Regions from separate parts of the Homo sapiens genome. Here region 2 is linked to region 1. Evidence: fine-mapped expression QTL. A gene starts in region 1. The other region holds a variant in brackets. All regions are shown on one strand. Distances are between the middles of the regions.

Region 1 (2,500 bases):
GAATGAAGCATATGCATTGTTATTGCATTGCTCCTTTTTTTCTTCATTTTTTATTTCAGGTTCGAGGGGTACATGTGCAGGTTTGTTACACAGATAAATTGCATATCACCAGGATTTGATGTACAAATAATTTCATCGCCCAGGTAGTAAGCCCAGTACCCGATAGACAGTTTTCCGAACCCCACCTTTCTCCCTCCCTCCTTCCTCAAGCAGGCCCCAGTATCTGATTGTTCCCATCTCTGTGTGCATGTATACTAAGGCACTGCTTCTTATATTCAAGGTTTAGTACTAAAATGCAAATATGAAGTATATAATTTAGTAAGTTTTAATCCTGCTGCAAACCAGGTCACATAAAAATAATGCAAAATAAAATATTAAAATTATTCAGAAGTTCGATATTTATTCTGTTGTCTTTACACCTTATAAAATGGAATGACCTAATTACTCTTAAATAAACATAAAGACAATTTAAGGTCACATTTGTTACATTCACATAATTTGTTAAACACAATAGAAATGTTAGTTTACTAGAAAAGAACTGTCATAATTTTAACATGCAGAGTTTGTTTACCTTCTATTATGGTGATCTTTGTTTAAGATTTTCTCCTCAGATGTTAAAAGTTTTTCACTTAAAGAGGCTTAGGGAAAGTGATTTTTAAAGAGTCACTGTTACATGGTAATATGCCGTTCATTTGGATGAGACTAGTATATAGGTAATAGTCACAAGTTCTAACTTGCATGTTAATTTGAAGAGATTTTTCGTAAAATTTTATCAACATTAGTTTCTAATGGAAACCAGTCTTAGAAGTTTTCTGCTGTTTGTTTGAGGTAAAGTTTTTTTAAGAAAGTTATAATTACATTAAACTATCATGCTTTAGGGTTTAAATGTTGGAAAGTTGGTTTTGTAAGAAGAAGAGTTTGGTTTCTTGTTTGTTTGTTTGTTTTGGTTTGTTTTTGGCATGCGAAGAGCTGTGTCCTGGAATTGGTGCCCAAAAAATTTTAAGTGTGGTATGAACTGTTTATGTCACTGAGTAAAATTAGACACGTCTGTTGCTAATGTGAGGGGATGAAACATGAGACAGGGCGAAACTCGTGAGAGCCCTTTCTCCAGGGACAGTTGCTGAAGCTTCATCCTTTGCTCTCATTCTGTAAGTCATAGAAAAGTTTGAAACATTCTGTCTGTGGTAGAGCTCGGGCCAGCTGTAGTTCATTCGCCAGTGTGCTTTTCTTAATATCTAAGGTAAGTGCTCAGTTTTAACTTAGATTTTATATCAGTACAAAGTACTACCTAAAAACCAAACGCTTAAGAGGTTTCTTAATATTCTTTCTTCTTTGGTGGCATAATAATAAATTTAAAATAATGTTGAATAAATTGGTGTATCACAACATAATGACATATCAAGTATCAATGAAATTCTCATTTCAACTAAGTTATTCTGACTACAAATATGCTACATATTTTTAGCATAATCCTATATTTCTAACATTTTTAATTTGTAGAATGCCAAAGGTAGCATTTCTGTATTATTGGGCATTGAATTGGATCCTGTAGTTAATTTAAACAAAGTATTATCTTTAAGATCACCTACTTCTAATTCTGCTCTTAAACTTTAGTGGTAGAATTACATTTGCTTTAGATTTTCTTGATAGTTTTGTTATAGACACTAAGAAATAAACTAAAATGAATGACAACAAAAGTCCAGTGGTTTTATAAGTTGGAAATAAACAAAACAAGAGCAAAATAGCAACCTGACTCCTTCACTATTTTTGGAGTGAAAAGGGAAGAATGTTTCTTTCCCTAAATCTGGAAAATATAAAATACTGCTCAAAATATGTATGAAAAAATAAACATAAGTGGGGTAAAAGTACACATGTGCTAATGCTTCAGCTTACTGAAGTTATGAGTTCTTTCTTTGCGTTTTCTAAATTAATACATGACAACTAGCAAACACAATTTTTTTAAAGGAAGGATTAGAAAAAAATAATACGGAAAAATATAACTCAGCTGACTGAAAGATTTGCCAGCAGACCAGTACAAAAACGAACTACGGAATACACCGTTTGTTTTTTGCTTATTTTCTTGCAAACATTTTGTAGGTACAAAAAGGCACCTTTGTGGAATTTAAAAAGTAATGCTACAAGTTGGGGTTCGTTTTATAGGTTCTAGGATTCATTTCAGATTGTCTTTCAAAGACAAATGAAAAGTAGCATTTCAATGTAGTTAGATATAGCATTCCAAAGACTAACAAATTCAGGTGTCCAAAAGATATCAGCTAAGCTTGCAGTTAAAATGCGGAAAATGAAATTGTTCCATATTGTCCTTTAAAAAATGTACTTGCTAGTCATTAAACTAAGTTGTTATTAAATTGCATTAAAAATTAAATGATAGTTGTAAATTATAGTGGGTTCCCAATGTGTTCAGTTTTGCATAACTTATAGGGCCTGAGGATCTCCCTCCACTCCCTAATCTGTGGCTCATCACAGCGCTTGTGTCTTCTCA
Region 2 (3,038 bases), 25 kb before region 1:
GCGTCTGGCTGATCTGCCTTTATTAGTATTACACCAGTTCTTAGCCTTTACTAATTGTTAGCTGATTCCTCTAATATTTTTGACAACATCTGGAGCATAAACTGTTCCATAATTTAATTTAATTACAGCCCAGTCCCCTTTTCATGGGTAGTCTTTGAGACCTCCTACAAGTCTAGGAGGACTCTTTTTTGCGACTTTTTTCCTGATGGTCTCTTAATTTTCTAGCTGGTCTACCATTTAGCTTTTTGTTATCATAAAGCTAGCAGTCTTCTCTTAATTGCTTACTGCCAAGATCTCCATTGTTTTTCATAGTGAACTTCTCCCCCATTCTGTTTCAAATAAAATCAGCTATGAAGTCCTCTATTCTTAAATCCTCCCTCTCGCCCTAGGAAGAAACTTTGTTCCACTGCTCCAGAGCTGGGGGTGGGGACAACAGGCTGCTTCTCTCAGAGTGACATCCCTGCTTCGTGAGCAGGACACTGAGTGGGGTTAGTAGCCCTTGGTCTTTTCAGCTTGCCTCTCCCAATATGGAACCTCCGCCCCATGTGTGGGCTAAGGCAGGGGTAGTAGTTGTCCAGTATTCTTCACCTGACACAATTTGAATAGAACTTCTACCTTACGGTGGTGGCTGGGTAGCAGGTGGCTGGGTAAAGCCCCAGTCCTTTCATCCACACTTGACTAGAATGGAGTTTACATACATGCTTTGGTGGACTAGGTGTGAGAATGATGGAGGCCAACCACCTCTGGAAAAAAACAAAATCCTGGACTGGTAACTGGGGTAGAGGGAGTCTATCTTCTTGGCCACACCTACCAAGAGTACAGCTTCCATCACACTGAGTTGGGGGTGGGGACTGAGTGGGTAGTGGTTCAAATGCCACAAACTCACACTGTTTTTACCAATATTTGTTAGATTTTAGAAATAAATATTTCTCCATTTGCTGTATGCCCTTAGGATGATTCCAGAGGCTTTAGTTAGTTTTAAAAAACAACAACAACAATTTTCAGTAACCAAAACAGCATGGTACTGATATAAAAGTAGATACATATACCAATGGACCAGAACAGAAATCACAGAAACAGGCCAGGCGCGGTGGCTCACGCCTGTAATACCAGCACTTTGGGAGGCCAAGGCGGGAGGATCACGAAGTCAGATCGAGACCATCCTGGCTAACTTGGTGAAACCCCGTCTCTATTAAAAAATACAAAAAATTAGCCGGGTGTGGTAGCAGGTGCCTGTAGTCCCAGCTACTCGGCTGAGGCAGGAGAGTGGTGTGAACCCGGGAGGCGGAGCTTGCAGTGAGCCGAGAATACGCCACTGCACTCCAGCCTGGACTGAATGAGGCTCCATCAAAAAAAGAAAACAGAAATCACAGAATAAAACCAAATATTTATAACAAACTATTATTCAACAAAGCATACAAAAACATAAATTGGGGACGGCATACCATATTCAATAAATGGTGTTGGGAAAACTGGATAGCCACATGTGGAAGAATGAAACTGGATCTCTTTCACCAACTACAAAAATCAACTCAAGGTGGATCAAAGACTTAAATCTAAGACCTGAAACCATTACAATTCTAGAAGAAAACTCAGGAAAAAACTCTTCTGGACATGGCTCTAGGGAAAGAATTTATGACTAATACCCTAAAAGCAAATGCAGCAAAACCAAAAATAAATACATGGGCCTAATTAAAGTAAAAAGGTTCTGCACCACAAAAGAAATAATCATCAGAGTAAACACACAACCCACAAAGTGGGAGAAAATATTTGCAAATTATGCAACTGACAAAGGATATTAGTCCAGAATC[T/C]ATGAGGAACTGAAACTAATCAAAAAGGAAAAAAAAGGCCAGGTGCGGTGGCTCACGCCTGTAATCCCAGCACTTTGGGAGGCCGAGGCAGGCAGATCACGAGGTCAGGAGATCGAGATCATCCCGGCTAACACGGTGAAACCCCGTCTCTACTAAAAATACAAAAAATTAGCTGGGGGCGGTGGCGGGCGCCTGTAGTCCCAGCTACTCGTGAGGCTGAGGCTGGAGAATGGCGTGAACCCGGGAGGCGGAGCTTGCAGTGAGCCGAAATAGCGCCACTGCACTCCAGCCTGGGCGAAAGAGCGAGAATGCCGTCTAAAAAAAAAAAAAAAAAAACCCATGTAAAAGTGGGAAAATGACATGAATAGACATTTCTCAAAAGAAAAATGTACAAATGGCCAAAAACACGAAAAAATGCTCAACATCACTAATCATCAGGGAATTGCAAATTACAACCACAATGAAATACCACCTTACCACAGCCAGCGTAGGTATTATTAAAACTCAAAAAGCAACAGATGTTGGTGTGGATGTAGTGAAAAGGGAACGCTTATACACTGCTGGTGGGAATGTAAATTATTGTAACCTCTTTGGAAAACAGTATGGTGATTTCTCAAAGAACTAAAAGTAGATCTACCATTCAATCCAGCAATCCCATTACTAGGTATCTACTCCAAAGGAAAAGAAGTCACCATATCAAAGAGACACTTGCACGCATATGCTTATTGCAGCACAATTCACAATTGCAAAGATATGGAACTAACATAAGTACCCATCAACTGATGAGTGGATAAAGAAAATGTGGTACATATATGCCATGGAATACTACTCATCCACAAAAAAGAATAAAATGTCTTTTGCAGCAACTTGGATGGAGCTGGAGGCCATTATTTTAAGTGAAATCACTCAGGAATGAAAAAGCAAATACCGTATATTCTCACTCATAAGTGGGAGCTAAGCTATGGGTGCACAAAGGCATGCAGAGTGGTAGAATGGACATTGGAGACTCAGAAGCCAGAAAATGGGCAAGGGATAAAAAACTACATATTGTGTACAATGTATACGGCTCGGTGATGGGTGCACTAAAACCTCTGACTTCACCACTCTACAATTCATCCACATAACTATTGAAATTTAAAAATTACATCATCAGAGGCTGCGGCAGGAGAATGGCGTGAACCCAGGAGGCAGAGCTTGCAGTGAGCCAAGATCGCGCCACTGCACTCC

Direction of the effects. Alleles are on the strand shown, and positions count from the first base shown. SD is a standard deviation of normalised expression in the study named.
As copies of T replace C in region 2, the expression in adrenal gland of the gene that starts at base 1,144 in region 1 goes up (small effect, 0.34 SD a copy in GTEx).

What was found. PIP is the estimated chance that this variant, and not a neighbour inherited with it, causes the effect.
Region 2: its variant is fine-mapped to the expression of SGCG in adrenal gland (GTEx, PIP 0.95).

What each region holds. Positions count from the first base shown.
Region 1 is chr13:23,179,836-23,182,335 of GRCh38, forward strand. SGCG (sarcoglycan gamma) reads left to right here and starts at 1,144. Exons shown (of 8, transcript NM_000231.3): 1 at 1,144-1,240.
Region 2 is chr13:23,154,335-23,157,372 of GRCh38, forward strand. The region is part of intron 1 of LOC124903134 (a long non-coding RNA gene); the gene reads right to left. Among named protein-coding and RNA genes, the nearest start is that of LINC00362, 15 kb to the right of the region's middle. The variant T/C (reference allele first, on the strand shown) is at 1,812.